3 separate regions of the Homo sapiens genome follow, and all the other regions are linked to region 3. The links come from fine-mapping of genetic effects on gene expression. A gene starts in region 3. Each other region holds a variant in brackets. All regions are shown on one strand. Distances are from middle to middle. Region 1 holds the start of LOC124903744 (a long non-coding RNA gene). Region 2 has its middle 18 kb from the start of LINC00917. Region 3 holds the start of LINC01081 (long intergenic non-protein coding RNA 1081).

The links.
Region 1: its variant is fine-mapped to the expression of LINC01081 in stomach (GTEx, PIP above 0.99).
Region 2: its variant is fine-mapped to the expression of LINC01081 in testis (GTEx, PIP above 0.99).

The regions. Positions count from the first base shown.
Region 1 is chr16:86,221,732-86,224,231 of GRCh38, forward strand. LOC124903744 (a long non-coding RNA gene) reads right to left here and starts at 1,341. Exons shown (of 3, transcript XR_007065165.1): 1 at 1,203-1,341; 2 at 786-1,126; 3 at 1-42. The variant G/A (reference allele first, on the strand shown) is at 961.
Region 2 is chr16:86,326,199-86,329,046 of GRCh38, forward strand. No RefSeq gene overlaps it. Among named protein-coding and RNA genes, the nearest start is that of LINC00917, 18 kb to the right of the region's middle. The variant G/A (reference allele first, on the strand shown) is at 1,087.
Region 3 is chr16:86,285,078-86,287,925 of GRCh38, forward strand. It overlaps LINC01081 (long intergenic non-protein coding RNA 1081), which reads right to left and starts at 1,170. Exons shown (of 6, transcript NR_104139.1): 1 at 977-1,170. It overlaps LINC02135 (long intergenic non-protein coding RNA 2135), which reads left to right and starts at 1,354. Exons shown (of 3, transcript NR_038438.1): 1 at 1,354-1,472. RefSeq lists an enhancer at 74-759.

The sequences.
Region 1 (2,500 bases), 64 kb before region 3:
TCCTTTGTAAAATGGGGTAGTAACAGCATCCACGCCATAGGGCTGTTGAAGAGATTTCATAAATCAATGTATGTTAAACAGGACAGTGCTTGGCATGTAGCAAGTGCGGCATAATTATTAGTTATCATTATCATCACTGAAAATAAATCATCTATGTGTTAAAACAGGCATAGAATATCCCTGGAATGATACCCCAGAGCCACAGGTACTAGGGATTGCCATTGCCATTGTTAGGGAACCCGAAAGACTGACAGACAGGATGAGGTGGAGGAAGACTTACTTACATTTAACTTGTGTCTTTGGAGTTTCTACCTAGTGTCTGTATTCAGAATTTTTGAACATGTTAATGAAAATTAGCAACATGAAGAATTGTACAGTGAGCATCGATGTACTTATCATCTAGTTTCTGTAATTGCCATGTTGGTCTGTTTAGTTTAACACACGTCTATCCCTCCATCCATCCAGACGTCCGTCAATACACTTTGATGCCTTTCAAAGTAAGCTGTAGATCTCAGAGCCCATCCTCCCAAACACTTCTGTATGTGGATCATTAGCCAGACTTTCGTATTTGTTTATGGGCTTTCCTTGTTAGGTAAAATGTATATAGAGTCAAATGCAGACATGTAGTATACTGTTTGATGGTTTTGACAATGAATTGTCTATTCAAAATTTAATTATCAACAAATGACATGTGACATGTGGATACCTTTATACGAGAGAGAGAGAGAGAGAGAGAGAGAGAGAGGAAGAAACTGAGACAAACCAAAATAGTATTTTGAACTCACTGAGAATGAAAAAAAACATCATGAGCCAATGTGATAACTTATCAGGTGGAGAAGGATTTACAAGTGATCAAGATTTTTGCAGACAGGTCGCAGTCATGCGCTGTTTCTGTTCCCGGAGGGCAGTCTCCTTCTGGAACCTTCGCAGCTAGCTTCTCAGGCAGGAGGCATGGCGGCT[G/A]AAGTCGGGGCTGCTGGTCTCCCCCTGCAGGGATTTGAATCCCAGTCCCTCCTCTCACGAGCTGCGTCAGCTTGGAGAAGTTACTTAGCTTTTCCGAGCCTTCGCTTCTTCATCTGGGAGGGTTGCTGCTTCCTGCTTCTCGGCTTTGTGGGGAGGATTCTGTGAGCTAAAATACATGGCACGTTTAGAACACCTGGCACCTGGCGGTCCTTAAATGCTGTCTTTTGCTATTAATCACATACCTCCCTATCTCTGCTTTTAAAAAAATTGAATAGAAGAAGCCAAACGTGCAAGGTTAAGAGCTTTTCATCCTCAAGGAAAAAACTTCATCTCTCCCTGCAGCTTCTCTGTCCTCCCCACCCTGCAAAAAGCCGGGGAAATGAATCAGCCTCCAGCCTCTTGCTTTTTCTAATTCTTTGATTACTGCATGATTGCAGCATCCACTCAGTCTGGGGCTAAAAAATCGAAAGAAAACAAAAATTCTTGAGCCATTTCCAGATACCGAATCTGACTCAGTGTTGGCAAAACCTACAAAATGAGTGACCAAGAAGGATAAACAAGTTTAGGTAAACACTCTATAGACTGATTCATGATTTAAGTACATCAGTTAGCATTTAGCTTCATTTACCATCGTGTTTTAATGTCATTAAGAATGTAACTTCTTAGAAAAACTAAGAGAGTCTGTTTTTAGCCCAGACATGCAATTAAGGGAATTAGTAACGTGATACATCATCCTCAGGAACTCTGATATAGTAAGAAATCTCGTGCAACCCTTTATAAAGACGTTCTTACAACCGACGCCAGAGTTCACGGAGTTTCAATGTGAGGGCAGCAGGGAGCAGGAAAAAAAAAGGAAAAAGAAAAAGAATGAAATTACTGTCTTGCTCTGAACAGCAGTAAGAAAGGGTCTGGAATCGTGTGCAGATATTAAATAGCATAAAATAGGGGTCCATTCTGGAGAATTAAGTCATTTTCTGTCTGGAACACAACTGTGTTCAAGCCTCCCTGGCTCCATCTTTGCAGAGGTTCATGTGTGTGAGACTGGGCTGGAGTTGGGAAAGCAGAGAAAGGATTTTTTTTTCTTTCCTTTTAGGGATTTTGACAGAGAATTCGTTTTCTGACAAGCTTTGGGAGTTTAGTTACAATTTCTGGGAGCTTGGGATCATCGAGGTCAGGGCTTCTCCACCTGGGCACTGCTGATGGAGAATCTGGGCTGTCCTGTGCGCTGCAGGATGTTGGGCAGCATCCCTGGCCTCCACTCACCAGGTGCCAGTAGCACCCCCCTCATGGTGATGACACCACTGAATGTCCCTGGGGGCAAAATCACCCTTTAGTGAGAACCACAGCTCTTGATGAATCTGTGTGTTTCGCAGATGAGGAAACTGAGTTTCAGAGAGGGTAAGCTCGAGTGAGACCCAGGAGCAAAGTACAGGGGAGGAGGTGGCACGGAGCAGTGGCAAATCAGGGTGTCAGGACCAAAGCCCAGACCCTCCACTCCATTCCTGGGCAATCAGGTTGCAATTCTCAGTCTCCCTAAGGA
Region 2 (2,848 bases), 41 kb after region 3:
AATACAGCCTATGCCAGAGCTTCTGCACTCTGTTACATTGCTCACATGCTTCTCTTTCTTATTTAATTATGTCTTTTTTTCTCAGTGACAGGGTTCTTGTGTTATTTAATTATTTTTTTTTTTTTGAGATAATGTCTCGCTCTGTCACCTGGAGCTGGAGTGCAGTGACATGTTCTCAGCTCACTGCAACCTCCGCCTCTTGGGTTCAAGCAATTCTCCTGCCTCAGCCTCCCAAGTGGCTGGGATTACAGGCACCCACCACTACGCCTGGCTGATTTTTGTATTTTTAGTAGAGACGAGGTTTCATCATGTTGGTCAGGCTGGTCTTGAACTCCTGACCTCAAGCGATCCACCTGCCTCGGCCCCACAAAGTACTGGGATTACAGGCATGAGCCACCGTGCCTGGCTGTGCTATTTAAATTGTAACCTTACCCTAGTGCACAGTAGGATTAAAATTGTTTTTATTTGTAGGAAATTTTAGTCTATCACTTTATCTGTTATTTGAATACTTAAAAATACACCATTCACTTTCATATCATTATCTATCTATCAATCATCTATCTATCTATCAATCTATGAGAAATAAGCACTGTGGAAATAAGGGAGATGAGAATTGAATAGTAGAATGAAGTTTGGGATAATGTAGACATAGAAGTTCCTAATTTAAAGTTATATACAATTTCCAAATGGTCATAAATTCGCCTCTGAGTTTCCTAAGAGCCAAAACACAAGAGAAATAAGGTAGCTTCTTCCAGGATTTCAGTGTGTGTGTCTGTGGGGGGCGGGGGGGCGCAAAGTTTAAATATAGAAAACAAAAATGTTGCTTGGCATACATGCAATGTACCCTCATGCCCGACACTGCAATCCGAGAGGAAGCCCTTGACATAGTAGATGCCATGCTGAATGTTGTCCCCAGGACTTCAAAGATCACATTTGTCTATTTCCGACTTTGTTACTCAAGATAAACCAAAGATGCGGGGCCACAGCTCTAACTGGTGAAAAGAATCCTAAGAGGGCTCACAGCAATGCCACGGCCAGAGGACGGCAGCCAAGGGCTAAATGTGCTGGCTCTGGATTCAAATCCTG[G/A]CCACTTACTTGCTGTGTGGCCACTTCCATGGGACTTTAGCCAAGCTGCCTCATCACCTCCTGAGCCTCAGTTTCTTCTTCTGTGAAACAGAGTTAAAAATGAACGTGCATGAGACAGTGGGGCCACCTCCTTGCCTGGAGTCCAAGCTGCCTCTGCGCACGCCCACCTCCTCCATGCTTTTCCTCGCAGCTTGTCTCTGCCGTCTAAGGTTCCATGGTGCCTCCCACATTCCCAGACGTTCACGGCCTGAGGCCAGAACACTCCCCATTCCCGGAGTTGCACCTGACCAACGCCCTGGCCATGGAGTCATCACAGCAGCCCCACAAACACCAGCATCCATGCCAGAGCTTCCCACTGAGAGTGGGTTTCAGATGGGGCCGTTCTTTACTCTTTCCACTCCCTCAGCAATGCAAAGAAAGGGAAGGAACCAACAAGAGGCCTCTTTTCTTTTCTTTTTTTTTTTTCTTTTGAGACAGAGTCTCGCTCTTTCACCCAGGCTGGAGTGCAGTGCCACAATTTTGGCTCACTGCAACCTCTGCCTCCCAGATTCCAGCAATTTCCTGCCTCAGCCTCCTGAATAGCTGGGATTATCGGTGCCTGTCACTACGCCTGGCTGATTTTTGTATTTTTAGTAGAAACAGTGTTTCACCATCTTGGCCAGGCTGGTCTTGAACTCCTGACCTCATGATCCACCCGCCTCTGCCTCCCAAAGTGCTGGGATTACAGGCGTGAGCCACCATGGCCCGCCTTTTAACTTGGTTCTTCTGTAGCAAAAGGGTGAGCCCGCCCAAGTGATACCAATTCATGAAAGCCAGGATGTCAAGGAACCGACATCAGACACACAGCCAAATGCTACCAGTTGGCCCTGCAATTGCCTTTCATTATTCTTTGTGAACTGACAGTAAAACTCTTTGTGAAAGGCAGTAAGAAAACATCCAGGACTCTCTTGGACTCTGGGCTGCTGGGTTTGGTTGTGCAGGTTGTTTACTGCCCAAGGTGCCTGGCCAAGGAGACACGTGGGGGTTGAAGGCCAGCCCATCCTGCACTCCCCAGGCCTTGCACCTGGCTCAGGGCTAGATATGTCAGGAGAAAAAGCACCTTTTTCTAATTTGCACAAAGATGCCATAGGGGCTACTGGCAGCCGGCTTAGATCACTGGCTGGTAAGCCCCCTGTCTTTGTGTGGTTTCTACCTCTTTTTGTTGATGGAGGTTTCCAAATTGAAAGCAAGCATTGAAAGCATGTTGTGGGGATTTGGGGCATGAGGCTGCAGTGAGCCAAGATCATGCCACCGCACTTCAGCCTGGGCAACAAGAGTAAAACTCCATCTCATTAAATAAATAAATAAAATAAGTGACATAGTATTTACTTTAAAATACGTGATTTAGTAAAATAAGCAATGTATAGCTAAGGTTATCTTATAATTTATCATCAAAGTGAGACATTTTTCAAGTAAAGGGCCCACTGTGATGAGTGTGCCGGGACCGCAGCCGTAATTCAGGAAGGTCCTGAGGAAACCAGTATTACATTTGCCTCAGTTGAACTCTGTAATATTATTCTATGCCGTCAGGGTGTTTGTAGCATGGAAAACCACTCACTGCATTTGATCTATGGGTGTCCATCATCCAGATATTATTATTGTCCCCGTGGTCCCTACAGAAGTTGCCTCCAGTGTTCTCATAAAGTAGGAGGGTAAATGCAATGCGGAGAACTTGACTCAGAAAATACAGAATAAATTTTCAGTAATTTTGAAAGTAAAAGAG
Region 3 (2,848 bases):
TGGGCCTCAGTTCCCCCATCGGTGAGATGGAGGTTCTCTGCTGCTGCATTATGGGGGTGGGGGTGGTGTGGGAAGGGTGCCAGGGATTGGGCACAGGAAAGCACCCCCAGCCCAACTGCTGAGCTGCCAGAAACCTGGAGAGTATATGAGGTGCCACTTTAGGGCATTCCCTGTTTCGTTTCAGGGTTCCTGTATGGAACCTGAGACCACCAAAGGCACGCTGTGGTGCCGAGACCCAGTGCCTGCCTCTCTCAGTAGCACTGTTCCAAAGCCATCAGCTCTTTCCTCCCCTTCCCATCCCCCACCTCTGGACTTAGTTCATGAATCTCCCTCCCCTATTCCCTTCTCCTCTATTGGGCCCACCCAGCTCCACATAGTTTTAGCTCCTGGTACCCTCCAGCACATTCTACAGAGACCCCAGGTCTGTGCTCCACACTCCTGCCTTTCATCTGGGTTCCCAGAAGCTGCAGGGACAACAGAGACCACCTTGTGCCCCACCCACCTTCCTGGGTGGACACCCAGATGCTAGGCTCTGAGACCCCTTCCTATGGAAGCACAAAGTCCCCCCTCCGGGCTGGGCCGCCCACCACTGTGCTGTCCACACCTTCCGGAGGGAGGCAGGTACCTGTGGGTAGAGCTGGGGAGCCCCAGCGCACCATTTCAGGACTTGGAGAAAATAAAATAACCTGGTCGCACCTCAGTTTGCATATCAGTGAAGTGCGATGATAAATAGTACCTTCCTCCCAAGGTCAATTGTGAGGATTAAAACAGAATATTCACAAAAGTCCGTAGCTCTCTAGACTATAAGCGCCTGCTTCATTCGTAGCAGGTGCTGTGACTATTATCATGATTATTTCACCCTAAAACACTTTGAATAGGACAGCGGAAAGACCCTTGACCCCTCCGGGGACAATCCAAGAGCCCCTTGGCTAAAACAGAGCCATGAAGCCCCACTAGGCTGGGCTTTGAGACTAACCTCACCACCACCCTCAACCTGGTGACCCAGCACAGGTTCGCTGTCTCGCTGTGTAGCCCCGGGTGTAATCCATGTCTGGAGATAGAACACTGGAGCTCAGTGGGGCCTGAGCTTTCTGGAGTGAGGGTCACCGCAGGGCATGCACTGGAAATCCAGATCCCTGGGCCGCTCCCTGGGAAGTTCTGATCTAATATGTCCAGGCTCCTTCTGGGATCTGTTTATTAAGCATCAGGATGATTCATATGACTCCGCCGTTGGAACACTGGAGCCTGCGCGGGTGTCAACGCTTGTTCACTTGTTACAGGTGAGGTCACCCCTTTGTCACGCACCTCGGGCCCTGCGCCCTGGTGGTCCAGGGCTGGTGCGGGGGCTTAGGTGCAGCCTCTCCCACGTGCACCTGCGAGGCCTACCCTTTCTCCCGTCTCAGGGCCTTGATGCCCGTGCCTGTGAAGCTGGCATCAGCGAAGACCTCAGACGGGAAGGGATGAGTGAGCAGGTGTGCCCCCAGGGACCCCACGCGCCCCCCGCCCCTTCGCGCACCGAGGTCGTCCTGCGTCTCCGGGATCCCAGGCCAGCGGGAGGAGGGGCCGCAGGGGCGCTGCGGGCAAGGGGAGCCCAGTGCGCAGGGCTCCAGAAACCCCGACCCTCGCAGGGGAGAGCCAGCCGAACCAGACGTGTGGGGGCAGCAGCCGCCGCGGCGGTCTGGGACGCGGGTGTCGCCTTCCACGGGACTTGGGTCCAGGGACCCAAGACGGGGATCTGGGAGGAGGGGGATGCCCTTGGGGCCTGAGACCCGGGCGGTTTCCGAAGCGAAGTAGTTACCCAGAACCGCTCCCTACCTTCTCCCCGCCTCCCTGTCTTTCTGCCCCTCTGTCCCCTGCAGCTGCTCGGCCCTCCCTCCTCTGAAACCCACCGCCCGCCCAAGGCTCACTCCTTCCTGCTGTTCCCGCCCGCGAAGCTGTTGCAGGGACGGTGCGCCCTTGGGCTGCACTCACCACCGCCCCTCGCCCGCGACGTCCTGGCCCCCTAACCCCAGCTTTCCCGCCGCCGCTCACTCCCGCGCTCCGCTGCAGCTCAGCCCGGTCTGCAACTCTCCCTCTGTTTTCTGCCCCGCTCCTCAGTTCTGCGCTCTCCTCTTCTCCAGGCTTCCCTCTCCTCCTCCTTCTGCCTCTCCCCTGTCCCCGTTCCATTCTCCTGCGCCCCTCGCCAGCGCGCTCGCAGCCCATCGGCTCCTGCCGGGGCCCCTCTGGTGCCAGCCGCCTTCAGGCTGTGGGTCCGTCCGCTGGTGGAGGGGAAGGTCGGGGCTGGCCCCGGGCCCCGCGCTGCTGGGCCCCATGGTCAGTGGAGACGCCTCCTGGTCTCCCTTCAGAGCTCCTCGTCGTCGTCGGAGTCATCGGAGGACCAGGAAGGAGGACCCCCCACCAGCTGCCGCAGCCTCTGCTGCGAATCCCCCCACACCACACCTCTCACCCCAGAAGCACAATTATCATTGCCCAGCCCCTTTCAGACAAAAGGAAGAGCGCGGTGGGGATGATCAGAGGGAACCCTGACTCAATTCATGGTGTGCGTGCGTGCGTGCGTGCGTGTGTGTGTGTGTGTGTGTGTGTGTGTGATTGATTGATTGATTTTTAACTAGAGGGGAAAAATTCCTAAGAAAATGGGCAAAAATTACAGATTGTCCCATTTTTGTCCAGTATTATCATTGGAAAGGGAGGAAGATGAAGAAAGAGCCAGTGTTTGTGGAGTTTGTTTCAGGCTAGAAATAGAAAAAGGCTGCAGTTGATTAAGGAGGTGGCCAGAGAAGCAAAGTTTGTTGAACGCTGAAGATCACCTTGTAAAGGTGGAGTTCCTCAGGCTTTACTCCGGGAGCCC